Regions from separate parts of the Homo sapiens genome. Here region 1 is linked to region 2. The links come from fine-mapping of genetic effects on gene expression. A gene starts in region 2. The other region holds a variant in brackets. All regions are shown on one strand. Distances are between the middles of the regions.

Evidence for each region.
Region 1: its variant is fine-mapped to the expression of WDR35-DT in adrenal gland (GTEx, PIP 0.98).

What each region holds. Positions count from the first base shown.
Region 1 is chr2:20,025,354-20,041,996 of GRCh38, reverse strand. It overlaps LAPTM4A (lysosomal protein transmembrane 4 alpha), which reads left to right. Exons shown (of 7, transcript NM_014713.5): 2 at 986-1,106; 3 at 4,383-4,459; 4 at 4,559-4,681; 5 at 6,935-7,030; 6 at 7,582-7,680; 7 at 8,718-9,347. The coding sequence ends at 8,792. Among named protein-coding and RNA genes, the nearest start is that of LAPTM4A, 18 kb to the left of the region's middle. The variant C/T (reference allele first, on the strand shown) is at 8,413.
Region 2 is chr2:19,985,891-20,002,533 of GRCh38, reverse strand. It overlaps WDR35-DT (WDR35 divergent transcript), which reads right to left and starts at 12,330. Exons shown (of 3, transcript NR_110235.1): 1 at 12,040-12,330; 2 at 3,257-3,328. It overlaps WDR35 (WD repeat domain 35), which reads left to right and starts at 12,429. Exons shown (of 27, transcript NM_020779.4): 1 at 12,429-12,542; 2 at 13,252-13,369. The coding sequence starts at 12,519. It overlaps MATN3 (matrilin 3), which reads left to right. Exons shown (of 8, transcript NM_002381.5): 4 at 454-579; 5 at 1,968-2,093; 6 at 5,275-5,400; 7 at 8,125-8,235; 8 at 9,368-10,482. The coding sequence ends at 9,423. RefSeq lists a silencer at 12,209-12,288 and enhancers at 12,449-12,498, 12,129-12,632, 12,649-12,698.

The sequences.
Region 1 (16,643 bases), 39 kb before region 2:
GAAGACAAAAGGGAAATAGGTAGCTAGGAAACATGCTAGTCAGAGGAATGGCTTAAAGATCTGCATGTCTATTCTAGAGAACACAGTATTTGGAGGCTGTTTTCAGGTATTGGAGCACTTATTTAGAAGGGAGAGCACATTATCTCAAAAGGTAGATTTAAGGCCGGGCGTGGTGGCTCACGCCTGTAATACCAACACTTTGGGAGGCTAGGGCTGGGTGTATCACTTGAGGTCAGGAATTAGAGACCAGCCTGGCCAACATAGTGAAACCCCGTCTCTACTAAAAATACAAAAATCACCCGCGTATGGTCGTGGGCACCTGTAATCCCAGCTACCAGGTGGCTGAGGTGGGAGGATCACATGAGCCTAGGAAGGGGAGGCTTCAGTGAGCTGAGATTGCACCACTGCACTCCACCCTGGGCAATAGAGTGAGACTCCATATCACACACACGCACACATACACATACACACACACACACAAAAGTAAGACTAGTAGATAAGTGACTTTCAGTATCTTGGTAAGTCTCTTAAGCATTTGAGTCTAGCTCTAGAGGAAATAGTGAGTTCTCTGTCACCTGATGAGAGATGCTGTGGAGGGGTTTCGGGCATCTGATGAATAAATATAACAGATGAACAGTAACTTCTTCAAATCCAGAAATTCTGAGATTGGTATATGAATAAATAGGTAGCTTCGAACATGAACCATTTGTAATGATTCTTTAGTTTTAATTTTTTTCTGGTGTATTGGTTAAGCATCTTATCTCTCAAATGGTTAATATTACTTATACTTTATAAAATATTTATTTTTAAATTATTCTCATAGTGGTAATTGCGTATTGTTTTATCTCACAGGTAGTCTCCCACTATTTTATATCTTTGTTACTTCAAGTAAGACAATCTTAAATATGAGAGGACATCTAGAGATTGTGCTAAGATTGCGTCGTGATGGTAATTAATGTAACTGATAGAATGTTATCTTTTCCAGGTAGTAAACCTATTGATGGCAATTTTGCTGACTGTGGAAGTGACTCATCCAAACTCCATGCCAGCTGTCAACATTCAGTATGAAGTCATCGGTAATTACTATTCGTCTGAGAGAATGGCTGGTATGTGTTTAATAGAAAAACAAAAAAATCTCCCCTGCTAATTTTTATATACAGTCCTGTGTTGTTTAATGATGGGGACACATTCTGAGAAATGTCACTGGGTGATATTGTTGTGTGAACATCATAGGGTGTACTTACACAAACCTAGATAGCGTAGCCTACTATACACCTAGGCGATGTGGTAGAGACTCCTAGGCTAAAACCTGTACAGCAGGTTACTGTACCGAATACTGTAGGCAGTTATCATACAGTGGCAAATAGGTGTGTATCTAAAGATGGAAAAATATAGTAATACTGTAAATACACTATTACAGTGTTATGGAACCCTCATGATATATGCAGTCCATTGTTGACCAAAATGTTGTTGGCCCATGTCTGTCTGTCTCCACACACACTGGTTATTTAGGGGATTGATTAGATTATGCTTAAGTTACATTTCAGAAAGTTAAAATGGTTACATAATAAGGGTAACAAGTTAAATTATATTTAAGTCATTCTTGCTGAGGCAGGAAAGTATTTTGATGGGTTTTTCAGAGAGATTCAGTGAGGATTACAATAGAGCATTTCTAGCCAGAAAATGTAATGGACTATTAAGTTTTTGAGAAATGTGTAAAATGTACCTTGAAATCAAAATAAGCATGCAGGCTTCATAAGACTTTTTTTTTAATGTAGCTACTAGTAGAAAGGAGAAGTTGCTATGGTTACAATATATGTGTCCCTCCAAAATTCACATGCTGGAGCTTAACCTCCAAGGTGATGATATTAAGAGGTAGGACCCTTGGGTGGTGATTAGGCCATGAGGGCTCTACCCTTATGAATGGGATAAATGCCTTTCTTTTTTTTTGAGACAGAGTTTTGCGCTTGTTGCCCAGGCTGGAGTGCAGTGGTGCGATCTCGGCTCAGGGCAACCTCTGCCTCCTGGGTTCAAGCGATTCTCCTGCCTCAGCCTCCTGAGTAGCTGGGATTACAGGCACACACCACCACACCCGGCTAATTTTTTGTATTTTTAGAGTTACTCCATGTTGGTCAGGTTGGTCTCGAACTCCCGACCTTAGGTGATCCACCCGCCTCAGCCTCCCAAAGTGCTGGGATTACAGGCGTGCCACAGCGCCCAGCCAGCGCCCTTCATTTTTAAAATCACATTTATATTATTTATTTGTTTAAAAAAAGTTTTTTAGAGAAAAGGTCTTACTTTGTTGTCCCAACTGGAGTGCAGTGGTACAGTAATAGCTCACTGTAACCCAGAATTCCTGAGCTCAAGTGATCCTCCCACCTCAGCTGCCTGAGTAGCTAAATTTTTGTGGAGATCGGGTCTCCCTGTCTTTACCAGGCTGGTCTTGAGCTCCCGGCTTCAAGGGACCCTCCCACTTCAGCCTCCCAAAGTGCTGAGATTACAGGCATGAGCCACTGTGCCCAGCCCATAGCAGACTCTTGAAAGCCGATTATTTGAATTACAAATTTTGCTTTCAAGTTTGATAATACCTGTTTAATTTCATATTTTGTTTTTACCTGAATTCTTCTAAGTGGAAGTTTGCATGTTGTAGCAGGGAAGTCCTTTAAATTCTTAACATTTATCAATCCTGTATCCTCTAAGAAAAAAGTAAAGAGGACTATTCCTAGTTTAGTGCCAAATATTGATGAGGTTTTACTGCCCAGTGATAAATTATATATACATGCTGTGCATGGTGGCTCATGCCTGTAATCCCATCACTTTGGGAGGCCGAGGCAGGTGAATCACTTGAGGTCAGGAGTTTGAGACTAGCCTGGCTAACATGGTGAAATCCTGTCTCTATTAAAAATACAAAAATTAGCTGGGCTTGGTGGCGCAGGCCTGCAATCCTAGCTACTCTGGAGGCTGAGGCAAAAGAATCTCATGAACCTGGGAGGCAGAGGTTGCAGTGAGCTGAGATTGTGCCACTGCACTCCAGCCTGGGTGACAGTGAGATTGTCTCAAAGAAAAAAAAAAAGTTGTATATACATTTACCCAATAGGGAATATTCAGCAGTTGTTCTAGTCATTCATCATTATTAGTGCCCTCAGTATTTTTTTTCTTTTTTCATTTTTAAAACATCTTTTGTGCATACAGGGTCTTGCTATATTGCCCAGGTTGGTCTTGAACTCCTGGCCTCAAGTAATTTTCCCACCTTAGTCTCTCAGAGTACTGAGATTACAGGTGTGGGTTGCCGTGCCCATCCCCCCCAGTTTCTTAATCTCTGCCCAGACGGATCACCTGATGTTGGGAGTTTAGACCAGCCTGGCCAACATGGTGAAACCTCGTCTCTACTAGAAATACAGAAATTAGCTGGATGTGGTGGTGCTTGCCTATAATTCCAGCTACTTGGGAGGCTGAGGCAAGAGAATCACATGAACCTGGGAGGTTGAGGTTGCAGTGAGCCGAGATCGCGCCACTGCACTCTAGCCTGGGCGACAGAGCAAGACTCTGTCTCAGGAAAAGAAAGAAAAAACTGTCCAGAGTCACAGAATCAACTACAGATTTGTGCTAAGAAATTCAGTAAGTCAGGCACGGTTTAGAATTGCTTGAGATTACTTGGCTGTTTTGTGAAAAAATTAGTGAACATGGATTAATGGAGAGTTGGAACAACCTGAGGAAGAGTTGAGAAACGAAGAAGAAAGTAGTGTGTGTTAACATAGATACCAGGGTGCAGGAAGCAATGAATTTTGGTGTTTGGGAGGTTGGGTGGGGAAGTGAGGTTAATGGCGAAATTTGAATTTCAGGTTATATTTATCTAGAGCAAAGGGTAATGTATGTAGCATTCTGAGTTTAATACACTTGTCTTTTAAGCAATTGCCAGCCATTCCTTCCAGCTAAACCCTACTCATAAGACCCATCTTGTGTCATTTCTTCATATTTTTTCCTGATGCTTCAGGCAAAGCAAATTGTTTCTGCCTCTGTTGTAGCACTTGACACATTGGATTATAATGATCTGTTTGCACATCTTCAGATTCCTGGGCTCATAAGGGCACAGGGACCTGTTTCTCTAGCAGAGAATGTGGTTCATGTGCCATCCTACACCCATGTCAGTGAGTCGTTGGAGCGATTTAACAAATAAGTGCTTTGTGTGAATGTCTCAAGGTTCCTTACTTCATGCTGAGACTTTGATTTTTTTTTTTTTTTTTTACCCTCTTGGCCTTAGATCTTTTTATAGCCAATTTTGAAAATATTTAAATTTAATATTTTAAAGCTAGCTTTAAGTGAAGTTTTGTTCTTTTTGTTGTGTAAGTAGCTTAATTAGATTTTTGTTTTTGTTTTCTTAGATAATGCCTGTGTTCTTTTTGCCGTCTCTGTTCTTATGTTTATAATCAGTTCAATGCTGGTTTATGGAGCAATTTCTGTAAGTATACTGTATTTTCATCTTTTAGAGTTTGACCTTAGGGGAGCTTAGTAATTTCCTATATGTGATACAATGTTATGGTTGTTATTTTTTCTCCAGTATCAAGTGGGTTGGCTGATTCCATTCTTCTGTTACCGACTTTTTGACTTCGTCCTCAGTTGCCTGGTTGCTATTAGTTCTCTCACCTATTTGCCAAGAATCAAAGAATATCTGGATCAACTAGTAAGTGTGTATGCTCATTAAACTTATTTTTTTTTCATTTTGAGTAAAATGTTTACATTTAAATTCTGAATCAGCCTTAGGTATTATTTTTAACTACTCCGCTTGCTTTTGAAAGTGTCTTAAAATAATTATTTCTGCTCTCTTAGCTACTGTGACAAAACTGGCAAGATGAAAGTAGAGTAATTTCTTACCATCCATTTGGATAATGCAGTATTAAGAGTTCCTAGAAATGGATATTATGGAACTAGTAGTTCAGCTTTTGTTTTTGAGCATCCAAAGGTACAGTAATTTGACTGTGTATGGCACTCTTTAAGTGACTAGCTTATTGTCTTTACAGACATCTGTAGCAAGTATTCCAGTGCCTACTATGTTTTTAGCCCTTTGCTAGGCACTGTTGGTGAATGGTGTGGATATAAAGATAACTGCGAATATTACAGTTTAGCGAGCAAACTGTAATATTTGGGGAGTCAAGATACATGAAGATGTTACCTGTGATAACAAGCGGGAGCTGTCACAGCAGCAGCAAATAAGGAACTTCGATTAATGTCATATGGAGGGGGGCAGGGAAAACTCTGGGCTGGGTGGCCAAGGAGGGCGTCGTGGAGGTGGTCAGAAGGAGATATGGGATCTAGGTAGATGAAAATTGGCAGGAGTATCCTCAGTTCATTTCCAAAGTGCTGTCTTTCAGAACTTTTCTTCCCACTACCAGATTTCCTGCCTAGCCCATTTTCCACACCACCAAATTCATCATTCATTTATTCAGAAAACATTCGCTGGTTGCTCTTATGTGCAAGGCACTCTGCTAGGTCATAGAGATGCATCAGTGGAGCTTACTTCCTGGTGAAGGAATCAGGAAGTTGACAGTTAACTGATACACCATTGTAGGTTACTGTGGGAGTGGATATCACATGGGTACTAAACCTGGGCTGGGAAGTGAGATTTGAATTGTACTCAGGAGTTTGAACAGGAATTAAGATAGAGAAAGTATAGAAGACAATGTTCCAGATAAAAGAGAGACCTTGAGGCAAGAAGCAGCATAGTGAGGGCACTAGAAGCTGGCCATGGTGGCTGGCACACAGAGGGAGGGTGGGGAAGCCTGGAGAAAGGTGGCCAGGGGCAGGGCTGTTGGCCTGGTCAGCCACGGTCAGCGGCTTCTGTGTGGCTCTCTGCTCATGTCATCTCCGGGGGAGAAATTTCAAGTGGTGCCTCCCTGCCTTCTGAGTAAAACCCTTAGCATAGCATTCCCTCATGAGCTCCACCTTCTGTGTTTTTCTTTTTGTTTATAGATGAAGATCAAAAAAACAGCTTTTTTCCCAAGGAGACAACCTGGCTGGGGTTTGGGGAGTAGTGTGTTCTTAAAATTTTTTTTTTCTATTTTTTTCAGTCCTTTGGGATTTCTGTTTATGTTGCTTTTTAAATGAAAATGTAATTAGGCCTTCTTGTTGACATTTCCATTAAAAACAAGCATAACTTAAAAAAATTAAATCAGCTTTATAGAAAAGAAGATAAAAATTTATTATTCCTTTTAGAGACCCTGGTGTTTTCTCTCCTCTGTTTTGTTCACTTAGTGCCTCAGACTGGAAGGTATTTCCTCTGTTGGTTAGTTTTTAAATCTGAAATTCTTCTTTTATAACACCTTTCTCCCTGAACTTAGCTCATTGCCTTGTACACAGTCAGGGCTGATTAAGTATTTAAATGAATATAGCTGATGCTTTTCAGTAGAACAGAGTATGTCTGCAGTAAAACTTATGTCTTGCCTGACATTGTAACCAGTGGGTGTATTTTTGCCCCTGTCTGATGAGAGTTGAGACAAACGATTGACATTTAGAAAAATAATTTTCCCCTTGTAGCATTAAAATGGCCCAGTTTATCTGTAGAACTTACACAGAACTGAGCATCTCCTGAGTTAATGATGCAAGTGACACAGGGACTGATCTCCAGTGCCATATAGGCGATAGTGTTTTTCCAAAGGCCAGAAAGATGGAAAATAGTGAAAAGTAAAGAGAAAACGAGCTAAATTTAGACTTTTTGGAGCATTGTGGGTTATCAAATGTACTCTAAGTGATTGTTAGCATGCATTAATGGTGATAAGGCTTAAAATTTAAAAGCACTTTGAATTAAATTCTGCTTATACATTTTTATTAAATATCACTTTTGACTTTGGTGCCTTTGTATTCTTCAGATGCTCTTCAGGTTATCAGCAAGTGCTAGTGCGATGGCTGACTTGTAAATGTGTGTGTGTTTCTTTAATAGCCTGATTTTCCCTACAAAGATGACCTCCTGGCCTTGGACTCCAGCTGCCTCCTGTTCATTGTTCTTGTGTTCTTTGCCTTATTCATCATTTTTAAGGTACGTTGCTGACTAAATCTTTAGGGGTGACTGAGATTGACACTGTGAATCTAAACCTTTTTGCTGCCTTTCACCTTACAAGTCACAGGAGATTGAGGATTTGTGGGGACAGTGTTTATTCTGGCACATGAGCAGAGATAGCTTCTAGGGAATGGTTTCTGTTGTGTTTCCAAGGAATGGTTGTAACTGTCAGGATCCTTCTCTGAGTGAAAGGACCTACTTTTTATGTTTTTGAAAAGGGGTTCATGATTTGTATTGAAAATCTGTTAAAATTCCCAAGGTTCACAAACCCAGAATTTCTTCTGCAGCACAGTGGGTTGACCTGAATTGAAGCTCCATCTCTGGTTTCTCTCTGAAATGTTGGCGATGAAACTCATGACACTTAAATGAGAGCAAGTAGGGAAAGGGCCTGGCCTGTGCTGGGTCCACACAGAGGTCAGCTCCCTTCTACACAGAGGATGTGTGGGGAAAGCATTCTAAGTCACTGGCATTTTAGAGCAGGTAGTCTGTTGAGTTTCTAGCAGATGTCAACTTTGTTTTTATTCTTCCAGGCTTATCTAATTAACTGTGTTTGGAACTGCTATAAATACATCAACAACCGAAACGTGCCGGAGATTGCTGTGTACCCTGCCTTTGAAGCACCTCCTCAGGTTAGCTACTGTTGGATAGAGTAAAAGGTCACCAGTCACTATTGACTGTTCCAGGAGAAGAACCTGGAGCTTGACTTTCTCTTTCATGCTGTAACCTATGGTTTGGGCATGAACCCTGGGTACTTTTATGAACAGCTTAAAATCCACAGGATTCAACATTTTCCACTTGGAATCCTGAGTACCTGGGTCGCTTGTCTCATCCAGTTTGGCTGTTAGATTTACTCATTAGAGGTCCTCATTAGTGTCATGTTTGTAGGGGAGATGACAGGAAACAGCTGTGTTAGGCCCATGTAGCCTGGGGCTTCTAAGGATGGGGAGTTCCATTGACTGAAACTTGTGTTGTTTTCAGAAAACATCCATATGATCCAACGGGGGAGCTGACCTGTCTGGGGAGATGAATACAGTGGTTTCATGGGTCTTTTGGGGAAGCCTACCTTTCACAGCCCTCTAATTGCTGCTGTGCTACCTTCCCAGGTTTTCAGCATATAAAATATATGTGGCCCATCTAGGGCCAGGCTTTCAGACTTGGAGTCACTTCGATTAGAATGTCACTCCTCCACTGCATAGGTGTGCCTGTTACCCTCGAAGACATGATATAAGTTCATGATCTTCTGACTACAAACTGATTCTGATGAAAGTCAGGATCCAGGAGCTAGCGTCTTATTGGGTGTTTCCTATTGCATGGTTTAACCCAACTCCTCAACACCTGAAGTGTAATTGGCACTGGCACTT[C/T]ATCGGTCACACTGGAATGAGGGCAGAGCAATGGCACCCACTGCCTGCCTGTCTAGGAATCCTTGTCCAGAAGCAGGACTCTCTCTCCCCACCTCCCTCTCTCCACCCTCCCCTTCGCTAGCAATCTTGGTAAAATTCCAGGTTATTGAGGCATCTACTTGGGAACATTTTAGCTAACAGTTTCTTCAGCTCTTCTTTATGGTTTTGTATAACCCTATTTAGGGCATAAAGTCTGAAAGCTGAATTATCTCACAAAGGATTTTAAAGGAGAATTAAATCTGATACAATTTTTTTTCTCTCTTTAGTACGTTTTGCCAACCTATGAAATGGCCGTGAAAATGCCTGAAAAAGAACCACCACCTCCTTACTTACCTGCCTGAAGAAATTCTGCCTTTGACAATAAATCCTATACCAGCTTTTTGTTTGTTTATGTTACAGAATGCTGCAATTCAGGGCTCTTCAAACTTGTTTGATATAAAATATGTTGTCTTTTGTTTAAGCATTTATTTTCAAACACTAAGGAGCTTTTTGACATCTGTTAAACGTCTTTTTGTTTTTTTGTTAAGTCTTTTACATTTTAATAGTTTTTGAAGACAATCTAGGTTAAGCAAGAGCAAAGTGCCATTGTTTGCCTTTAATTGGGGGGTGGGAAGGGAAAGAGGGTACTTGCCACATAGTTTCCTTTTTAACTGCACTTTCTTTATATAATCGTTTGCATTTTGTTACTTGCTACCCTGAGTACTTTCAGGAAGACTGACTTAAATATTCGGGGTGAGTAAGTAGTTGGGTATAAGATCTGAACTTTTCATCTGCAGAGGCAAGAAAAATATTTGACATTGTGACTTGACTGTGGAAGATGATGGTTGCATGTTTCTAGTTTGTATATGTTTCCATCTTTGTGATAAGATGATTTAATAAATCTCTTTAAATACTTAGGGTTGTCATTGTTTTTAATCCGTTACTTTTTTTTAAGATAAACCCTGACATTTTCCATTACAGTGTATTCAGAGTGCCAGTGTTTATTTTTTTTTTAACTTTGAGAATACAGTTGGCCCTTCGTATCCATGGGTTCTGTATCCATGGGTTCTATATCCATGGAGTTAATCGACTGTGGATTGAAAATATTTGGGGGGAAAAATGGATAGTTGGATCTGTACTGAACATGTACAGACTTTTTATTCTTGTCGTTGTTCTCTAAAAAATACACTATAACAATTTATGTAGCATTCACATTATATTAGATATTATAAGTAATCTAGAGATCATTTTAAAAATATGGGAGGATATGCATGGGTCATATGCAAATACTATACCATTTTATTATAAGGGACTTGAGCAACTGTGGATTTGGGTATCTGGAGGGAGAACCTGCAACCAGTCCCCCATAGATACCAAGGGACAACTGCACAATGATGCACAGTTAATTAGAAATCATTTTCTTAATCCATTAACTCTAAATTTGTGGTGAAGATATTTCTTGAATCACAGGACAGAAATTAATACCGGTGGTTTGAAAAGTGATTGCTGTAGCAATCTTTTTTTTATGTCTTATTTTTTTTCTTTCCAACTTCTTAGGTTCAGAGGGTACATGTGCAGGTTTGTAACATGGGTAAATTGTGTTGCAGGGGTTTTGTCAGTGTTTTGTCATCCAGGTTGTGAGCATAGTACCTGATAGCTAGTTTTTTGATCCTCACCCTCTACTCTCAGGTAGGCCCTGGTATCTATTACTCCCTTCTTTGTGTCCATGTGTACTTAATGTTTAGCTCCCACTTATAAGTGAGAGTATTTGGATTTCTGTTCTTGCATTAATTTGCCTAGGATAATGGCCTCCAGCTCCATCCATGCTCCTGCAGAGGACATGATCTTGTTCTTTTTTATGACTGTAGTATTCCATAATATATATGTACCACATTTTCATTATCCAGTCCACTGTTGATGGGTATTTAGGTTGATTCCATGCTTTTGCTATTGTGAATAGTGCTGTGATGAACATATGTGTACATGTGTCTTTTTGGGAGAATAATTTATATTCCTTTAGGTATATACCTGATAATAGGATTGCTGGGTTGAATGGTAGAATGTTTTAAGTTTGAGAAATCCCTTATGCTGCTTTACACAGAGATGGAACTAATTTGCATTCCCACCAACAGTGTGTAAGTGTTCCCTTTTCTCTGCAACCTTGCCAGCATATGTTTCTTTTTACTTTTTAATCATAGCTGTTCTGACTGGGGTGAGATGGATTTCTCTGATTATTAGCATTTCTCTAATGGTTAGTGATGTTGAGCATTTTTTCATTTACTTATTGGCCATGTGTATGTCTTTTGAGAAGTGTCTGTTCATGTCCTTTACCAATTTTTTTTTTTTTTTTTTGAGACAGGGTCCTCGCTCTGTCACCTAGGCTGGAGTGCAGTGGCACGATCTTGGCTCTCTGCAACCTCCACCTCCTGGGTTCAAGCGATTCTCATGACTCAGCCTCCTGTGTAGCTGGGACTACAGGTGTGTGCCACCACACCCGGCTAATTTTCGTATTTTTAGTAGAGATGGGGTTTCACCATGTTAGCTAGGCTGGTCTCGAACTCCTGACCTCAAGTGTTCCACCTTCCTCAGCCTCCCAAAGTGCTGAGATTACAGCTGTGAGCCACTACACCCAGCCTCCTTTGCCCACTTTTAATGTTGTTGTTGTTGTTGTTGTTTTGTTTTTTGCTTAAGTTCCTTATAGATTCTGAATATTAGACCTTTGTCATATCCATAGTTTGCAAATATTTTCTTCCATTCTGTAGGTTGTCTGGTTGCTCTGTTGATAGTTTCTTTAGCAGAGCAGAGAAGCTCTTTAGTTTAATTAGGTCCCATTTGTCAATTTTTGTTTTTGTTGCAGTTGCTTTTGGTGTCTTCCTCATGAAATCTTTGCCAGGGCCTACATCCAGAATGGTATTTCTTAGGTGTCCTTCTAGGGGTTTTGTTTGTTTTGTTTTTTCAGTTAGGTTTTACATGTAAGTCTTGATATGGGTTTGGATTTGTGTCCCCATCCGAATCTTATGTTGAATTGTAATCCCCAGCATTGGAGGTGGTGCCTGGTGGGAGGTGATTGGATCATGGGGGTGGTTTCTCGTGGTTTAACATCATCCTTCTTGCTGCTGTTCTCGTGATAGTGAGTTATTGCGAGATCTGTGTGTGTAGCACCTCCCCCTTCTCTCTCTTGCTCCCGCTCCTGCAATGTAAGATGCTTGGCTCCCCCTTTGCCTTCTGCCACGACTGAAAGCTCCCTGATGCCTCCCCAGAAGCTGATGCTGCCATGCTTCCTGTACAGCCTGTGGAGTGAGCCAGTTAAACCTCTGTTCTTTATAAATTATTCAGTCTCAGCTATTTCTTTATAGCAGTGCAAGAACAGACTAATAGAAGTCTTTAATCCATCTTAAGTTATTTTTATATATGGTGAAGGTGTCTAGTTCTAATCTGCATTTGGCTAACCAGTTATCCCAGCACCATTTATTGAATAGTCCTTTCCCCATTACTTATTTTTGTCAACTTTATTGAAGATCAGATGGCTGTAGTTTGTATGGCTTTATTTCTGGGTTCTGTATTTGGTTCCATTGGTCTGTCTGTTTTTGTACCAGTACCATGCTGTTTTGATTACTGTAGTCTTGTAGTATAGTTTGAAGTTGGATAATGTGATGCCTTCAGCTTTGTTCTTTCTGCTTAGGATTGCCTTGGCTATTCAGGCTTTTTTTGGTTCCATATGAATTTTGAAATAGTTTTTTCTAATTCTGTGAAAATGCCATTGGTAGTTTAATAGGAATAGCATTGAATCTGTAAACTGCTTTGGGCAGTATGGCCATTTTAACAATATTGATTCTTCCTATCTGTGAGCATGGAATCTTTTTCCATTTGTTTATGTCGTCTCTGATTTCTGTCAGCAGTGTTTTGTAATTCTCATTATAGAGATCTTTCACCTTCCTGGTTAGCTGTATTCCTAGCTACTTAAGTCTTTTGTGGCTATTGTGAATGGGATTGCATTCTTGATTTGACTCTCAGCTTGGGTATTATTGTTGTATAGAAATGCTACTGATTTTTGTGTATTGATTTTATATCCTGAGACTGCTGAAGTTTATATCTAGGAGCTTTGAGGCAGAGACTATGGGGTTTTCTAAGTTTAGAATCACATTTTCTGTGAAAAGAGATATTTTGACTTCCTCTCTTCCTATTTGGATGCTTTTTATTTTTTTCGCTTGCCTGATTGTTCTCACTAGGACTTCCAGTACTGTGTTGAATAGGAGTGGGGAGAGTGGGCATCCTTGTCTTGTTCCAGTTCTCAAGCAGAATGCTTCCAGCTTTTGCCAATTCAGTGTAATGTTGGCTGTGGATTTGTCATAGATAATTCTTATTGTTTTGAGGTTACGTTCCTTTGATGCCTCATAGTTTTTTAAGGGTTTTTGCCATGAAGGGATGTTGAATTTTATTGAAAGCATTTTCTGTGTCTATCGAGATGATCATGTGGTTTTGTTTTTAGTTCTATTTATGTGATGAATTACATGCATTGATTTCCATATATTGAACCAACCTTGGATCCTAGGAATAAAGCCCACTTGATCACAGTGGGTTGGCTTTTTGATGTGTTGCTGGGTTTTGGTTCATAAAAGGCAGTTCCCCTGCACACACTGTTGCCTATTACCCAGTTCCAAAGTCGATTCCACATTTTCAGGTCTCCTTATTTATGTTCTTCAGGGATATTGGCCTGAAGTTTTCTTTTTTTTTGTTGTGTCTCTGCCAGGTTTTGGTATGAGAATGATGCTGGCCTCATAGGATGAGTTAGGGAGGAATTCTCCTCAAGTTTTTGGAATAGTTTCTGTAGGATTGGTACCAGCTCTTTATATGTCTGGTAGAATTTGGCTGTGAATCTGTTTGGGACCTTTTCCAGTTGGTAGGAGTATTATTATTACTGATTCAATTTCAGAACTCAGGCTGGATACAGTGGCTCATGCATGTAATCCCAGCACTTTGGGAGGCCAAGGCGGGTGGATTGCTTGAGGCCAGGAGTTCGAGACCTGCCTGGACAATATGGTAAAACCCTGTCTCTACTAAAAATACAAGGTCAATGTGAAAGAAAAAATATTAAAAGCAGCTAGAGAGAAGGGGCAGGTCAGCTACATCAGGTTAACAGCAGATCTTTCAGCAGAAACCCTACAAGCCAGAAGAGATTGGGGACCTATATTCAGCATTCTTAAAAATTCCAACCAAGAATTTCATATCCAGCCAAACTAAGCTTCATAATCAAAAAAGAAATAAAATCCTTTTCAGTACCTAGGATGCAAGTCCACTACAGCTCGTGTGTCCTGTGTCCCTGCTAAGGAACAAGTTGGAGATGAGGACCTCTTACTCTCTTTTCCCATCTATATTTGGCACAGTGACCCACAAAAAGCTGAGGGGGAGGGAATTAAATGTTTTCTGAATGAAATAATTTCTCTCCCCTCCACAAATTTTATACTGCTAATAGATCATTTTCAATATAATTGGGAATATACCAGTACACATACTACACTTACATTTAAAGTTTCTGGCAATAGGAAACCAAGAGATCTTTCACTGATAAGTTGTACATTTTATTCCCTCTGGTGACTCACGCTGTTTTTCAGTCTGTGGCTAATTTGTTCACAGTTATCGTGGACTTAGCTTTGTTCTGAGCCTAATTGTTCCACTATCCCTTAATAGGCAAAGGATAGATGTGCTATTTTCAGAACTCCTGCTTTCAAAGAAGGAATGTGTTATAAATAAGCCCAAGAGTTGACTGAAAGAAAAAGTTGTACCTTTGCTTTTCTGAGGTTGCTTTTTCTGTAAATGTCATGACTTTGGTTATGAGAAAATAATTTAGAAACAAGATGAGTGTTGCCAAATAATGTGGAATTCCAGGCACACGAGAGAGGCAACACTGGGATGGTGGAATGAACACAAAGTTTGGCATCAGAAGGTTGAAATTCAATTCCTGTCTTCACCCAGCGATTACACTCTGACCCTGGGAAATTTAACTAGGATCTGAGCTTCAGTTTTTGCATCTATAAAATCAGAAAGATGCAAATAACTGACCTATGAACTCGGAGTTGTTCTTAGGATCAAGTGAGGTAACAGACCCGGAAGGGTTGGCAGACCATAAATTACTGTGCAAATATTATGAGGGTGTATGAGAGCAAGGAATGGCTGGAGGAAGGGCTGGAGAGGGAGAAAAGTATTTGACCTGGAAACCAGAAAAAGAGTGACTTTGTTCCCTGTCTGTTAGAAAGGAGCTTTGTACAGTAGTCCCCCCTTATGTGTGGGGGATATACCCTAAGAACCCCAGTGGGTGCCTGAAACCATGGATAGTAACAGTACCCTCTATATACTATGCTTTTTCCTATAATACATACCTATGATAAAGTTTAATTTATAAATTAGAGTAAGAGATTAAAAGCAATAACTAATAAAATAGAACAACTACAATTTTTTTAGGTTTTTTTTATTATTATTATACTTTAAGTTTTAGGGTACATGTGCACAATGTGCAGGTTAGTTACATATGTATACATGTGCCATGCTGGTGTGCTGCACCCATTAACTCGTCATTTAGCATTAGGTATATCTCCCAATGCTATCCCTCCTCGCTCCCCCCACCCCACAACAGTCCCCAGAGAGTGATTTTCCCCTTCCTGTGTCCATGTGTTCTCATTGTTCAATTCCCACCTATGAGTGAGAACATGCGGTGTTTGGTTTTTTGTCCTTGCGATAGTTTGCTGAGAATGGTGATTTCCAATTTCATCCATGTCCCTACAAAGGACATGAACTCATCCTTTTTTATGGCTGCATAGTATCCCATGATGTATATGTGCCACATTTTCTTAATCCAGTCTATAATTGTTGGACATTTGGGTTGGTACCAAGTCTTTGCTATTGTGAATAGTGCCACAATAAACATACGTGTGCATGTGTCTTTATAGCAGCATGATTTATAGTCCTTTGGGTATATATCCAGTAATGGGATGGCTGGGTCAAATGGTATTTCTAGTTCTAGATCCTTGAGGAATCGCCACACTGACTTCCACAATGGTTGAACTAGTTTACACTCCCACCAACAGTGTAAAAGTGTTCCTATTTCTCCACATCCTCTCCAGCACCTGTTGTTTCTTGGCTTTTTAATGATCACCATTCTAACTGGTGTGAGATGGTATCTCATTGTGGTTTTGATTTGCATTTCTCTGATGGCCAGTGATGGTGAGCATTTTTTCATGTGTTTTTTGGCTGCATAAATGTCTTCTTTTGAGAAGTGTCCGTTCATGTCCTTGGCCCACTTTTTGATGGGGTTGTTTTTTTCTTGTAAATTTGTTTGAGTTCATCGTAGATTCTGGATATTAGCCCTTTGTCAGATGAGTAGGTTGCGAAAATTTTCTCCCATTTTGTAGGTTGCCTTTTCACTCTGATGGTAGTTTTTTTTGCTGTGCAGAAGCTCTTTAGTTTAATTAGATCCCATTTGTCAATTTTGGCTTTTGTTGCCACTGCTTTTGGTGTTTTAGACATGAAGTCCTTGCCCATGCCTATGTCCTGAATGGTAATGCCTAGGTTTTCTTCTAGGGTTTTTATGGTTTTAGGTCTAACATTTAAGTCTTTAATCCATCTTGAATTAATTTTTGTATAAGGTGTAAGGAAGGGATCCAGTTTCAGCTTTCTACATATGGCTAGCCAGTTTTCCCAGCACCATTTATTAAATAGAGAATCCTTTCCCCATTGCTTGTTTTTCTCAGGTTTGTCAAAGATCAGATAGTTGTAGATATGCGGCGTTATTTCTGAGGGCTCTGTTCTGTAGAACAACTACAATTTAATAAAAGTTATCTGAATGTGGTTTCCCTCTCTGTATCTCTCTCAAAACATCTTATACTGTACCTACCTTTCTTCTTGTGATCTGTTGATCTGATAACCAAGATGATTACGAAGTGCCCAATAGGTGGGTAATACATGCAGGCAGCGTGGATGCACTGGACAAAGGAGTGAGTCATGTCCAGGGCAGTACAGAGCAGGACAGTGTGAGAGTTTATCATGCTACTCAGAATGGCATGCAATTTAAAACTTATAAATTATTTTTTTAAAGCCTATGGATTATTTACTTCTGGAATTTTCCATTCAGTATTTTTGGACTGTAGTCCCCCACAGATAACTGAAACTTTGAAAAGTAAAACCACAGATAACCGGGGACTAGTATATCTGTTATCATT
Region 2 (16,643 bases):
TTTCATTACATGCAAGCTACCCTCTTCCTCTCTAGTCATAGATGCTCATGGAATCTAGAAGTAGCAAAGAAGTTAGAGGGGTACTCACTGGTCTGGTACATAGATACATACATGGAGTCAATGAGGAATGGGAATTATATATTTTTTTGTTTTGTTTTTAATCCTAGAAAAAAGTTTTTGGGAGGAAGAAAGCTTAGAGATAACTTAATTTTATAGATAATGAAATTGAGATGGACAGAAGGGAAAAAACTTACCTATGTCACAGGGTCTCTTAGTGAAAGAGCCAAGACCGGAGGGTTGGTTCCCAACTCCCAGCTGCCCCTCCCTTGTTTCATTAGCTCTGTGTGTGTGTGTGTGTGTGTGTGTGTGTGTATAACTGTAAGTGGCGTGGCCCACAATTATTTCTGCCATGCTCTGCATGCATTTACATTTGTCCCAATCATCTTTTGATAGCTCTTGATAGGTGTGCTCTTAACACCCACGGATGTGAGCACATCTGTGTGAATGACAGAAGTGGCTCTTATCATTGTGAGTGCTATGAAGGTTATACCTTGAATGAAGACAGGAAAACTTGTTCAGGTAAGTGAGGGAGGAGTCTTTACTATTGCTACTTAGCTCTCTGCCTACCTACCCGGTGATGGAAGGGCAGGTCACATTGACTGGGAAGTTGGTGTGTTTTCCTCTCTTGCCACCTTGAGCTTTTCCCATTTTTAAGTCTTATCCAAAATGTTAGAAATGGTAACATGTATGTATCTCGGCCCAAATACATAAATATGTTGCTCATTTCCTTCTCTGTAGCCAGCCTGAACAATCCTTCCCAAATGCTACAGACAATTCAGTAGGTTGAAATCACATAACAACCCACAAGTTACCTGTTGCTTACAAAGGGAAAGACAGTAACTTTATAGTGGAGAAACTGGCAGACATCACCTTAACTAAGTGATCAAAGTTAACATCATCAGTGATGACACATAGTGACATCATGTATGACCTGACATGCTGTGCTCAATACTGTGGACACAACAGCACACCTGTAGTATTCTTGCTAAAAATTCAGGATTATGAGGAAAGATTAGAAAAACCTGAGAGACACTCTCAGTTCACAAAATAGTTTTCCAGTACTTCTCAGAAACGTGAAAGTCATAAAAGACAAAGAAAGACTTAGGAAGTGTCCCAGGTTGGAGAGGACGGAGATGTGAAACTGAATGCAATGTGGAATCCTGGATTGGATCCTGGACCAGAAAAAGGACATTAATGGCAACATTTGAATAAAGTCTGTAGATTAGTAAATCATATTATATCAATGTTAATTTCTGGTTTGATAATCATACTATGGTTATGTAAATTACTGTTTGGGGAAACAGGGTGAAGTACAGGAATTTTTTGCACTGTTTTTGCAACCTTTTCATAAATCTGAAATTATCTCAGATGAAAAGTTTAAAAGTAAAAAATAGTTTAAAAATATATCAGTAGAGAGGAAAGTGCATTGAATGAAAATGTGTGTCTTGAGTTTTTATGCTGCTCTGAATCAAATGGTCTCCCTCGCGCTCCTTTCCCTCATTTAAAAAATAGGAGAGGGTTGAACTACAATTTCTTCAAACTCTAATTCTATGTTTTTCTGAATCTAATGTAATTAGCCACACAACTGTTGGTATCCCGCTGAGTTGGGATAAGTACAATAAGCCTAAAAGGAATGCTAGAAAGTATTTATGAGATACTTAGGTTATAAAAACTCAATACTGATGATTTCCAAAAGCAATTGTGGAAGGTCAGAGAATAATTATTGTATGTGCAGGATTTCACTTAACTCAGTTAACTTCTAGTTAGAAAAAAACAGTGCCAATGGCTTTGAATAGTTTCCAGTAAGTTTTCCTCATATGTTTCCAGCTGCAAATAAGGTTTCTATCCTGGGTAATAAAATACTTTTCCACCTTCTATTTCTTTTCTCCTGACTTTTTGTTTCACAGCTCAAGATAAATGTGCTTTGGGTACCCATGGGTGTCAGCACATTTGTGTGAATGACAGAACAGGGTCCCATCATTGTGAATGCTATGAGGGCTACACTCTGAATGCAGATAAAAAAACATGTTCAGGTAAGATCCACTCAAAAAATTCTTTCATACTTGGGTCTTTCACATGAAACCAACTTGCAACTCACCAGCAAAGAGGTTTTTAAAGGTAACTTAAGATCAAGGTTCAGACATTCTATCACACTTTTAGATGAAGGCACACATTGCTCAGAGGGTGGTGAGCTCACTGGAGCAAACATAGATTACTTCAGAAAATTACTGGGAAATAGGTAGGGAGTGGGGGATATGAGAAAAACTAACTAAATGTAGGGTCCTTATCCAGGAAAATTTTATAGCTCTGTACACTGAAGACTTTTAAGCAAAGAGAAAACTTTAGTGGAAGTCAGTTGGACAGTAACTATTTGGTGTGATAGGATGAACTGATCTTTTTCCAGTTAAAACTTGGCCTGGAACTTTTCTGTAGTGTTAATCTTAAAGCTGGATGATTTTAGTAAAGAAGACTTTGTGAATGCCTGAATTAGACCCACACAGATCTTCCAGTAAGTTTGAGGCCAGTCACTCCCTGGCAGTTTCTAGACGATCAATCATTGGTGAAACTCAGCCTTATACGTTGGCCAATGAGCCCAGGCCAGTGCTGTTAATCCTCATTAATTTGATTTAAACTTACTGGCAGGACAGGGTGGCATTTATAAATGTAAAAACACTCCTGAGAGAAATTCCAAGCTCTCAAGGTGCCGTTTAGCTTTGGCATATTGAATGTGTTTTAGATTTGACATATATTTTCCTCTCCCTTGAGGACATACAGACTTCATCAAGATAGACAAAGGGAAATGGCATGTCACCCAGTCCCCTCTTTTTTTTTTTTTTTTTTTTTTTTAAAGGGAAACCAGTAAAAAAATACCGGACACCTACTTTGTTCCCAGTATGGAACTAAGCATTGGGAGCATACAAAGAAGCCTAAGTTTCTGCCTCTGAGCAAGTTAAATCTGGGTGAACAGAGAGCCGGCTCCTTATGAAAGCAGAGACTGAGCCAGGGAGAGGGACTGATGGAAACAAAGGGCTGTAGAGGCTGGGGAGGTGGGCATCTGCGAAGGGCTGGTGGTGGGCCTTGAAGGAGGGTGAAGGTTTCAATGGAGACAAGTGGAAAGTGGCACTGGCGGGGGACTGGCTTGAGCTGATTTGTTCAGGGCAGGATGACTAAGAAAGTTGGGGTGGAGAGAACTCACCTATGGCTGCACTTCTCAAACTAGTGACAAGTGTCCCAGTTGGTACTTTAAGCTGCCAGGAACATTGAAGACCTGGGAAAACAAACCAAAAACAAATTTCCATTTAAACTAACAGATAGTATGGAATAAAGTGAAGCAATCTATTTTAAAAAAAAACATAAATCAAAGAAAATTTTCAGTTAAGGCAGACAACACTCCCAGATGCCAGTATTCCATATTCTTCAATACCTACTGTAGGCCATGCAGGATTCTAGGCATTTTAGATACAGTAATGTACCTTAATACTCACAGCAACGTTAGGAGGAAACTGATTCAGTAACTTGCCCATGGTTACTCTGCTAGCAAGTAGCAGACCCAGGGTTTGAACCCAGGTACTTCCTCTAGTGGTTACATAGGCTCTTAACCACTAAGCCTTACTGTCTTAATGTACAAAGCACAGGACAGTGAAGAGGGACAGAAGAGAAAGAATACTAGTGGGAAAGTTAGTTATATATATATATATTTTTTTTTCTTCTCTTTTTTGAGACAGGGTCTCATTCTGTCACCCAGGCTGGAGTGCGGTGGTGTGATCTTGGCTCATACAGCCTCTACCTCCCGGGCTCAAGTGATTCTCCCATCTCAGCCTCCTGAGTAGCTAGGACTACAGGCACATGCCACCACACCTGGCTAATTTTTGTATTTTTTTGTAGAGATGGGGTTTTGACATTTTGTCCAAGCTTGTCTTGAACTCCTAAGCTCAAGCAATACACCTGCCTTGGCTTCCCAAAGTGCTGGGATTACAGGTGTGAGCCACTGTGCCTGGCCTATTTATATATTTTAAAGTAATAGTGAATACTGCTATAAAGCTGGGGAACATACCATGGATCAGATCCCTTCTAATGGTCTGCTTTTCCGTTGCTAGTGGTAGGAAGGCTTGTAAATTAAATGTGGAGCCCCAAATAAGGGCCAGGGGCTGGAAGCATGTCCATTTGCCACCTGTAGAGTGGGTACTAACCTGGAATGAGGGGGAAAAAAATGAAACACCCTGCTATAAGGCATTTTGCTGAAAAAAAAATCTAAATTGTAGCACTGAAAGGGAATAGCCATATTAAGGTTGGAAAGGCACTTTATGTATAGATTATATAGCGTCTCACATTTCACAAGAAGCTATTCTATAGGCATTAGTGAGCCACAAAAGGTTCTGCCCATGAAATGACATTTAAGAGGAAAATTAGAGGGAAATAAACTATTTTGGTTCCTGCAATGGCAGAGGAGGAACCTATGTCTTCCAGGAAGGCTTTCTGGATTTCAAAGGAGAATTACTGTTTTATTTGTCCTAGGCCAGTCTGAACATGGGATGAGTATGGCACTTTGCTCTCCTCTCCACTCAAATTTGGGCAAACTGCATTTGTCCCTGAAATGTTATTTGTGATAGATAGTAAGTACTTCACTCTCTAATCATACACATCATCATTACTAACCCTGTATCATTTCCCCATCTGTGCTTGTGTGTGTGTGTGTGTGTGTGCATGTGTCTCCTGGTCAGTCTTTTCTGTTACACTTTGTAAGCTATGAAGGCAGGCACTTGGTCAATATAGTGCTTTTTGTGCAGCATCAAACTTAGCTCCATGTATGATTAGGTCCCTAAAACATTACTTTTGGTGATGATGATGATGATCCATGAGTAGCTGGGGATGCTAGAAGCATTGATAGTCATCGGGAAAGGCTGGAGGTAAGTTCTGGAATATAGTCAAGACTCAGTGCTGCCCAGTGCTGTGGGTAGAAAAAAAGGAAAGGTACCCTTAGATATCTGTGAGAGATATAAAGGAAAGGAGTGTGTGTGATGTGAGGCCAAAGGGATGAGAGGTATGGGAAGAGAAAACAGGCTTGCTCCTGCAGCATGGGGCCTGTTGCTGACTACTGACTACTACATTCTCAGCACTTGTGGGGACCAAATGGAAGCTTCTCCTCTCAAACATTTGTGTTTACTTTTCTATTTAATGTGTGAATATTTTCTTTCCTGCACCACGTGCGGTCAGTCCGTGACAAGTGTGCCCTAGGCTCTCATGGTTGCCAGCACATTTGTGTGAGTGATGGGGCCGCATCCTACCACTGTGATTGCTATCCTGGCTACACCTTAAATGAGGACAAGAAAACATGTTCAGGTGAGGATCAGCCCTTTAAGGCTATTTCCTTTGGTAGGAAAATTTTTCAGGAGCAAGCTTTTTTCTTTCTGTCTAAGACACAGTTGTGATTCTTTCTCCCTGTCAGAATTCTCCAGTGGCTCCCACTGGTCTACAGAATAAAACAATGATACCCCTATACCAGGCAGCCTACCCTCCATGATCTGTTTCTGTCTTCTCTGTTTTTCACATTTTTCTTAATAACTAAACTTTCTGCCTAAGTCTGAATTTTTTTTATTGTGGTAAAATACACATACAATTTACCATTTCAATTATTTTCAAGTGTATAGTTCAGTGGCATTAAGTACATTTACATTGTTGGGCAACCACCACCAGTATCCATCTCCAGAAATTTTTTATCATCCCAAAATAAAAGTCTGTGCCGATGAAACAATAACTGCCCATCACCCGCTCCCCTCAGCCCATGGTAACTACTTCTCTCATCCTGGCTTTTAAAACTTTTCTACTACATTTGCCCCCAGATTCACTGCTTCTTCCTGCATCCTGGTCCAGCCACAGTGGGCTCTTTGATGGTCCAGGAGCATGCCCTGCACTCACTCATTCCCACCCTCCCCTCAATGCTTTTGCTTGTCAGAATTTGCTTGCCAACATTTGGTTTTGTTGAATTAAATTTTTGCCAATCCAGTGGATGTTTTTTTCATTTCCTGGTTACTAATGAGGTGAGGCATCTTTTCCTGGAGAGTACTGCCATTTTAACAGTCTTTCATTGCATTAACATGGTATGTCTTTAATTTAATTTAATTTTATTTTATTTTAGGTCTTCTTTAATTTCTTTCAAAATTGTTTTGTAGTTTTCAGTGTACAAGTCTTGTACTTTTAAAAATATTTATTCCTAACTATTTTATTCCTTCTGGTGCTATTATAAGCACCATTTCTCCATTTCTCAACTTTCAATTTTGCTACAACCCAGGTTTGAGAAATGGAGTTTGAGATCCATTTCTCAACTTTCAATTTTTCTACAATCCAGGTTTACAATTTTCTATGAAGTGTTGTAATTAAGACTATCCCACTGAACCCATGCCCTGCTAGAGCTTAGAGACTATCAGGCACGACAGACACTGAACAAGTATTATATATACCCATCTTATGGGTACAGGGATAATGGACATGTAGTTGATCTTCAATAGATACTTCCTGGTTTATTGACTGATTAACTAAGATGGGATTTGGACTGGCTGTCCCTAAAAGGTTCAATAGGATTCAGACAGGTGGATAGATGATAGATTATATTTAATGAATTTATGATCTCCCATCCCTATATTGGATCTTTGTAAAATGTTAAGAGTAAAAATGTTGCAGCAAAGGACCATTTCCTGTCCTCAGGCAATAGAATTACTCCATTGGAAGATGATACACCAGTCTTCAGACCTGGGAAGTTACTCTTATTTCTATTCACAACTTTAGGAGGAGCCCTGATACTGAATAGGAATAGCTGCCTGACTGAATTCCATAAAGAAATAGGAGTTACTTTTATCACCTCTCATATTTGGTTAAATGTCAATACAAACGTGAATTTTCAGTTCCAAAGTATTTATTGGTAAGAACTAGGACTCTTACTTCAAACCATTAAATAGAATAACAGTCCTCTAGAGGAAATCAGGACTTAACCTGGTTTTTATCCTTTTTTTTTGTTTTGTTTTTTGAGACGACATTTCAATCTGTCACCCAGGCTGGAGTGCAGTGGTGCGATCTCAGCTCACTGCAACCTCTGCCTCCCGGGTTCAAGCAATCCTCCTGCCTCAGTCTCCCGAGTAGCTGGGATTACAGGCATGGGCCACCACGCCCAGCTAATTTTTGTGTCTTTATTAGAGACGGGGTTTCACTATGTTGTCCAGGCTGGTCTTGAACTCCTGACTTCAAGCGTTCCACCCACCTTGGCCTCCCAAAGTCCTGGGATTACAGGTGTGAGCCACTGCGCCTGGCCCTAGTTTTCATCTTTGGTATATTTTAGCCATACAAATAGAGGACTATTGTCCTAGTTTTATTTTTATTTATTTATTTTTAAGAGACAGGGTCTTACTCTGTTACCCAGGCTGGAGTGCAGTGGTGTGATCATGGCTCACTGCAGCCTTGAACTCCTGGGCTCAAGTGATCCTCCTGCCTCAGCCTCTCGAGTAGCTAGGATTACAGGTGTGTGCCACTATGCCTGGCTAACTATTTTACTTTTTTGTAGAGACAGGGCCTTGCTTCGTTGCCCAGGGTGGTCTTGAACTCCTGGCCTCAAGTGATCCTTCTGCCTCAGCCTCCAAAAGTGCTGGCATTATAGGAATAAGGCACTGCACCAGGCCCATTTTCCTTTCTTAATTACACAGTATTACATAAACATTGTCTTATTTCTATATCCCTGGCCTCCCCCTATACCAACCATGTTTTTCTAAATTTACTTTATATCATGAATAATTTCTGGCAATCACAAAAGTACAGAGAATAAAATAAGGAACCCTCACTTAAGCATCACTCAGCTTTGACAATTATAAACATTTTCCCCAATGTATCCTAAGATGAATTTTTCTGTGATAAGTATTTTCTCGTCTTTTTGTTTGTTCATCTATCCCTTTACCTCTTGGAAAATGCACTTAGGTAAGTCTTAACGGTGGAAATATTCAACTGTGGATTTCCTGATTTGTTATGATTCCTATATAGCTATTCCTAGATAGTATATTTGTGTACTGTCATTGTCTTCAGCCACTGAGGAAGCACGAAGACTTGTTTCCACTGAAGATGCTTGTGGATGTGAAGCTACACTGGCATTCCAGGACAAGGTCAGCTCGTATCTTCAAAGACTGAACACTAAACATATCCTTTCTGGAAGGTTTTCTCCTTCTGCCTGGAGCCAACCAAGGTACTACGATCGAGCCAAACACTTTAAGACATTCCACAGGCAAGTGACTTATTTGTTAGGTTTTAATATGAGCAGTGGTAATATACAACTTTAAAAAATTTAGAGTTCTTTTCTAATGGTTTAATAGACTGTTTCACCCATTCAATATTTACATGTAAAAGCTGCCTATTTTGTCCCCTAGTGCTTTTCCATAACTGTATATGCTCCTAATGATGCTCTTACATAACAGATGGAACATTTATGCTAATGACTCCTTAATATGGCTTTCTTAGTTCAGAATCTGAACATGTACAAAGCAAGTCAGCTGATTAATGGGGTGTGATATCTCAGATTACACACAGTTGTACCCTTTGACTAGCCAAGTGGTCAAAAAGCAGATTTTAAAATGTAACATGATACAATCTCAGAAACTTTCAAAATCAGTTCTTTCTTCAAAGGAGTAACTAGGGAAAAGTTTCTCAGAACAGTTCAAGTTAACAACTCTGTTCCTATGTACCCCAGAGGAGTGGAATTTAGATTGTGGTAGGTACAATCTAGGCGTATGTAGAGACTTTTAAGGGAGGTACAGATAATTGGAAAGAATCAATTTCCAAATCCTTCACTTGCTTAAGACACTACTTGGAATCAGCTGGCATTTTCTTTTCCCGTCTCTCATTTCCATATCACCATTCTCCTAACTTCACACAAGAAAGGCATACTTCTCATTTACCCTAGATCTACTAAGGTGCATTTGTTAGAACAGCAGAATCTTGAGATAGCCAAACAAAGGGACAATCCAACTATCCCTTTAATCAATACTTCATAAACACTGCTTCCCCCATCCCTCACACTAAGATGCTACTCCAATTACATTTTATATGAACAAAAACATCTGAAGACCACTGCAGGGGTCTACTTTTATTGTGCTCTCTGAAGAACAGGATTTTTGACTTTTAGACTGAATTCAACTTTTGGTGAGAAAACAGTTTTGCTCTTTTTTTTCACTTCTCATAGGACATAATTATTTTATCTTGTGAAGTGTTTGAAAGTGTGTTTATATTTTCTAATGTGTAAAAATAAATGGTGTTGGCCTTAACAACTTGCCACTTGATGACATTTTGGAGAAGTTGAAAATAAATGAATATGGACAAATACATCGTTAAATTGCTCCAATTTCTCACCTGAAAATGTGGACAGCTTGGTGTACTTAATACTCATGCATTCTTTTGCACACCTGTTATTGCCAATGTTCCTGCTAATAATTTGCCATTATCTGTATTAATGCTTGAATATTACTGGATAAATTGTATGAAGATCTTCTGCAGAATCAGCATGATTCTTCCAAGGAAATACATATGCAGATACTTATTAAGAGCAAACTTTAGTGTCTCTAAGTTATGACTGTGAAATGATTGGTAGGAAATAGAATGAAAAGTTTAGTGTTTCTTTATCTACTAATTGAGCCATTTAATTTTTAAATGTTTATATTAGATAACCATATTCACAATGGAAACTTTAGGTCTAGTTTCTTTTGATAGTATTTATAATATAAATCAATCTTATTACTGAGAGTGCAAATTGTACAAGGTATTTACACATACAACTTCATATAACTGAGATGAATGTAATTTTGAACTGTTTAACACTTTTTGTTTTTTGCTTATTTTGTTGGAGTATTATTGAAGATGTGATCAATAGATTGTAATACACATATCTAAAAATAGTTAACACAGATCAAGTGAACATTACATTGCCATTTTTAATTCATTCTGGTCTTTGAAAGAAATGTACTACTAAAGAGCACTAGTTGTGAATTTAGGGTGTTAAACTTTTTACCAAGTACAAAAATCCCAAATTCACTTTATTATTTTGCTTCAGGATCCAAGTGACAAAGTTATATATTTATAAAATTGCTATAAATCGACAAAATCTAATGTTGTCTTTTTAATGTTAGTGATCCACCTGCCTCAGCCTCCCAAAGTGCTGGGATTACAGGCTTGAAAGTCTAACTTTTTTTTACTTATATATTTGATACATATAATTCTTTTGGCTTTGAAACTTGCAACTTTGAGAACAAAACAGTCCTTTAAATTTTGCACTGCTCAATTCTGTTTTTCGTTTGCATTGTCTTTAATATAATAAAAGTTATTACCTTTACATATTATCATGTCTATTTTTGATGACTCATCAATTTTGTCTATTAAAGATATTTCTTTAAATTATACTGAATTAACAGTTATTTTGATATTCAACAGTTTCTTATCAAAAGACAGAAGTTTGATTCTCCTCCTATAGTTTAATCTCACACTCCTGAGGCTAAAAGTGTAAGTTCAGGTTCAAAAGAAAGGCTTCAATATAAAATTATCTAAATTTGGATAAAATAATGATGAGCTTTACATTAATATAAGCTCCTGAGAAGCAAATATATCCTACAGATGTAAATATAAAATATAAACTTTAAGGAAGGAACAAAAACTAAATATACCAAGGAAATATATAAAGCATCTCTTACTTTTCAAAAATTTTGAAAGGGTATGACATAGAGCTACAGTAGTATTTTCCAGACTTTTTTGAGCCCAAAATCAGTAATACATATTAATATACCACAGAGAAATGGTGGTATAGAAGGAATAAATGAGAGTTCATGTGCAAGAAGGGAAAGATAAAGAGAGGTGAGTTTTCAGGTGTCACCATCAGTAACTAGCTTCAACTAATTATGTCTTGACCAGTTTATTGGAAACTCCTGGGTTAGATAATACTAATTTGTCTCATGCGTCCAGTATAGGGAGCCTATGGACAGGGGCCAATGTATCTTAAACAGACACACAAACAATGGAAAGCAAACATTATCTGAATGGGATTGGGTTAAGTTTGGAAAGAATTCCTCATGGAGACTGATTTGTGCTGGTTTGGCTAGGCACAACTGGCCTGTTAAGAGGGTAGGACCATATATAAAGTGGCTTGGGAAGCAGAGCCGGATGGAATGTTGCCCTGCAGAAAGCATATTGGCTTACTTGAGGTGGGGGCTCCCTAGTAAAAACATTTAGGATTGAGGGAAGATCTGATTTTGGATGGAGTTTAGATTTGCTAGGAAAGGCACTAGGGACTATTGTCAATTCTATAATAGATTGTGCTGGGTGAGACAAATCACCCAGGTCAAAGGATTGGAGGATTTTTATTTTATTTTTGTCTGAGATGGGAAAAGACTCCAAGTGGGGAAATTAACTACTGATGCATAAATTACATGCTAGATTATGGTAAAAGGGAAAACCAGAAATAAAAACATAGGTGAGACCAAATAATTTCATGAGTGGTTCTACTTGGATTTCTGCCCTATGCCTTAGACTTTGAGGCTTTGTAACTCTCAAGCATTCCAAAAGGACAAAGGAGAATGAAGAAAGAAGGTAAGAAAAAGAAGAGAATATGTAACAGTCGACTCTAGACGAGAAAACACCAAACGCTCAAATATTTGTAAAATGGGAGGCCATGCCCCAATAGCAATTGTACGCTGTAATTACCCAACGTTTACAGAAATTCCTTTAAAAGGACCCTCGGGGTTGCGGTAATAATTAAACTGTTAAAAAATATCAAAACAAGCGGAATAAACAAAATCTTCTATTCCTAAATTGCTCTAGAGGTTCTCCAATCCCCAAAGACACAGAGAAGGGTTGTAAGATCTCAGTACGCACATTTGCACTTTCATCTGGCCAGTGGCGCCAGCCTATCAAATACAGTAAATGGCTTTTCCCTTTCAAGAATGTTGGAACTTTGGAACTTACAAAATACTAAATAATTTGCCCTTATTCGAACGGGCGCCTCTCCTCTTAGGTTTATAGTAATGCCACCTGAGGCGCGGCTCCATAGCGATCATCACAGGTGTGGCGGGAGGGAGGGCGGCAGTGACCACGAGACGGGGCGCAGAGGGCGAGCGCACGGCTGGCAGTGACAGGTCGCGACCCAGCTCCTTGCGGAGAGCAGAAAGGCCCAGACGCCAGGGAACAGGACTAGCCCAGCTACCGCCTCGCGCCTCGCGCCCTGCGCCCACAAACCCATCGACGTCCGCGCAGGCGCACTACGCCGGTGCCCGGTGCGAGGGCGTCACCGGAAGTGTCCCGCGGCGCCCCGGATGCGACCGGGCAACAGCGGTTGCCAGGGCGACGGGAGCTTTCCGGAGCTGCTGGTACTCCCGATTGGAGACGTAGAACCGTTACTTGTCGAGGGCCTTAGCGGCCGCCGTGACCCTCTCGGGGATCCCACGATGTTCTTCTACCTGAGCAAGAAAGTGAGTTTCCTGGGGGGCGTCCTCGTTTCTCCGCCATTCCCGCAGCCTGCGGCGATTCCCGCTGCCTTCCCGAGAAGCCAGGCTCCTTCACCCGGTCCTGGTCGTGGCTTCGCCATTCCGCAGCCATCCTTCCCGCCGGGTCCAGCCTCCGACCTCTTCCTGCGGTTCCCAGAGCCTCAGTCTTTGGCCGAGCTTGCTGCCCTCTCGCAGCACTCTCCCATTCCTGCCCCTGGCTAGGTCCTTTTGGGTGGCTTGAGGATAAGTCGCCACGTGCTACCCTATGTTTCCTCCTCCACTTGTTGCTGATCCACGTGATTTAAACTCTTTGGATCACCACGAGCCATTGGGCAAGAGAAAAGAAATAACAATAGGATAGCCTAAGTTGTAGGTAAAAAGGAAGAGGGACTGGTGGTATGGATTTATACCCTCTCCCCGTCCTCCCTTTAAAAAATCCATCCGGTGAGACTCTGGCGTTGGCTTCCTCCGCAGTCACTATCCTTCTCTTTTGTGCACTTCTTTCCCTCTTTCCCAAATGCTAGAGCCCGGGTCAGTTCAGGGGACCATGCCCATTTTCACAACAGCTCATTTTTTTTCTGCAAGGCCGTTCGTTTTTCTTCTTGGAAGATTTTCTTCAGCTTTCATCTCCTGCAGACTTACTTCCCAGCTCCTTCGTGAAAAGTTGCTAGTGCGGCTGTGGTTGCTTTTTCAGATTTCCATTCCCAATAACGTGAAGCTGCAGTGTGTATCCTGGAACAAGGAACAAGGGTTCATAGCATGCGGTGGTGAAGATGGATTACTGAAAGTTTTGAAATTAGAGACGCAGACAGGTAAATGAATGCAAGCCCACATGTTTGGTAGTAAATTGGCTAATGTTATTTGTTCAGTGCGGTCTACTCATGTTATCTGTCAATATGCAGTTCTGATTATTTTAAAGGGAAAACTACCAAAACATTTTATGGTGTTTTTCTGGAGTATATTTGCAATAAAGTTCAGAGAATGTTGAATGTAAACATCGGATGGTTTTTGCTGAGTTATTAATGGAAAATGAAAAATAATGAAGAATGAAAATAAGTCACTGTGTTATGCTATGTCTAATTATTGTACTATATTATTAGGAGTCTAAAAGAAATCCTGTGAGTCAACATTTCACTAAGAAAATCTGGCAGATTGTTTACAGGTCTGTGTCATCCTTTCTGCTTATCAGATGCATTAATGGTTATTCACCTAGTGTCCAAGAACAGAAAATGGGATACGTTTTACATTTCTATTAGTAGGTCTCTTGTCTTTGCTGCTTGATTTCTTTCTTTATCTAGTTCTCTGGAATCACAGCAAACAGCTTCCCACTTCTTAGCCCCCCTAGATTGAAGACCTAGATAAGGTAATTGGAGTTAAATCTCAGCTCTTCCACAAGACTACTGAATGACTTTCAACAAGTTAGCTGAGGATCTTACTACTTTAGTTTAGTCTTCCATAAAATGAAAATGTAGGGGGTTAAACTGCATTACATTTTTGGATTCCTTACAACATAGCTTCTCAAACTGTATTAGGTATAAGAATCACTGGAAGAGGTTGTTAAGATGGATTTCATGCTCTACCCCCACACAATAGACCCGGGATGGGGCCTGAGAATTTCCATTTCTAGTGAAGCTGAGTTGCTGGTCCTCAGACCGCACTTTGAATAGCATTACCTTACAACTTTGAATGCGGTATGAATAATAAATACTTATTGACGATTTTCCATGTAGTGGATGTTTAACCTTCACAATCTTATTTGACTTCACAATAATCTTGGGCAGTAGGTATTCTAGGTGAGAAAATTGAGGCTCTGAGCTGTTAACTGCCCTAGGTCACGCAGCCAGTAAGTGGCGGAACAAGGATGTGAAACTAAGTTTGTCTCACATTCAAGTCCTTGTTTTTAACCACTACACAAAGGGCTAGTGGACAGCCTAAGTAAAGAAGAGTACCAATTAAAGTTTGGCTTATGCTGTTTTATAGTTCAATCTGTCAGTGCTTTAGTTTTTTAAAACTGTGTTAAAAGAAAGTTTTTCTCTGTTTCTTAAATGTGTATATAGATATATATATACGTGTGTATATATATATATGTGTGTCTGTATATACATACTTTTGCTTACAATATTTGGCAAGTTTTTTTTTTTTTTTTTTTTTTTGAGACAGAGTTTCGCTCTGTTGCCCAGGCTGGAGTGCAGTGGCTGGATCTCGGCTCATTGCAAGCTCCGCCTCCTGGGTTCATGCCATTCTCCTACCTCAGCCTCCCAAGTAGCTGGGACTACAGGTGCCCACCACCATGCCTGGCTAATTTTTTTGTATTTTTAGTAGAGACAGGGTTTCACCGTGTTAGCCAGGATGGTCTTGATCTCCTGACCTCGTGATCTACCCACCTCGGCCTCCCTAAGTGCTGGGATTACAGGTGTGAGCCACCGTGCCTGGCCTGCAAGTTTTAAATTACATTAAGAAGTGCATTCATTTTGTTTAACATTGAAGGCTTTTTTAAAAACAAACTTCTTTTTCTGCTCTGCCCTTTTGATGAGCTGTGACTGGAGTATTCTTTGAAATTAGTGAACAAGATGGGAAATCAATTCTTGGGAGGTTTGGAAAATGGAGTAAAGTATTTGTTTTGGAACTGAATGATTATGAATTGTGCTGAAAGAAATAAATATGAGGAATATGGCTGTGAGAGTCTAACAAGATCAGTATATTATATTTAATACAACTAGTGTTGATTCAGCAGATCCGTCCAGTAACAATCATAGATATTGCATGCCTGCTTTCTATGAAGCACTGTGTTGTGCTAAAGATGCAACATGTGAAGTATAATGTGTTGTAGTTTGGGTACAGCAACATAATACAGCAATCCTCTACGTCCATAAATCATCTTCTATGGCACCATTGTTAATGTCTATTTAGTATTTCATTATATTGGTATTAATATATCATAATTTGCTTAACCAATTTTAGTATTGGACATTTAGGTGTCTCCACATTTTTACTATTAAAGCAACTGTATCTTTGTATCCAAATCTTTGCATAAATAGTTAATACTTTCTACGATAAATCTCTAGAAATGGCATTCACTGGATCGAAGAGTGTGTACATTTATACAAGTTCCTAATATGTGTACACAAATTACCCTCCAGAAAGTTTGCACCACATTGCATTTCCAGTTTTCAGTTCCCTGCTCTAGAAGGAAAGGAATTAGAACCAGCAATCCATCTTTTTACATCAGGTTTACTTCTCTCACAGGCCAGCTTCCAGTGTTTTGCTGGAGCCCATCTCCCTTCACCTTCTCAGGTACCTTTCTGCCAATTTATCCTCTCTCTCTCCTTTCAATATCAGTCCTCTCTCCTTTTCTCTCCCTCACCAGTGACTTTCATGTTCTAAATCTAATGGACAGCTTTTATTGACTCATCAGGATTTGACTTGAAACATTATTTTTCCAGACAAGAGAATTCAGAATGTTTAAGTTATTGTTATATTTAGACGTACTACTTTTCTCTCCTTCTCTGGTCAGTCCTCAGTCTCTTTGCTAGATTTCCCTCTTCTATTAGAATTCCTGAGAACTTGCTTCTGGGCTCTCTATTCACTTGCTCTATTTATTCTTTCATTCTCATGCCCTTAAATGCCATCTGTGGTATGAGGTGAAGAGCCCCACATTTATATCTCCAGCCCAGTCCTGATTTTTCAGACGTGGGTGTCTCCACTGGAGTCTTTCACAGGTATCTCCTATTTACTGTGTTCAAAACCGAACTCTTGATATTCTTCCAAATCTCTTTCAATTCTCTCCATTTCAGCAAATATCTCCATTTCACTCATTTGCTCAAGCTGGAAATCTTCTCTTTTCCTCCGTTAACAACATCTGCATCAGCAATCCTGTTGCTTTTGTCTCCAAAGTGTATGTTGAACCCATCCTTTCCTTTGTCTCCCCTGCTCCCTCTATAGCTCCAGCTACCATCATCCCTCACCTGGTCTATTGTGAGAATCAGTTTCCCTCCTTCCATTGTCTCTGGCTTCCTCTTAGTCGTTCTTGACACTCTAGCCAGTGTCAGGCTTTTTTTTTTTTTTTTTTTTTTTTTTCCCGAGATG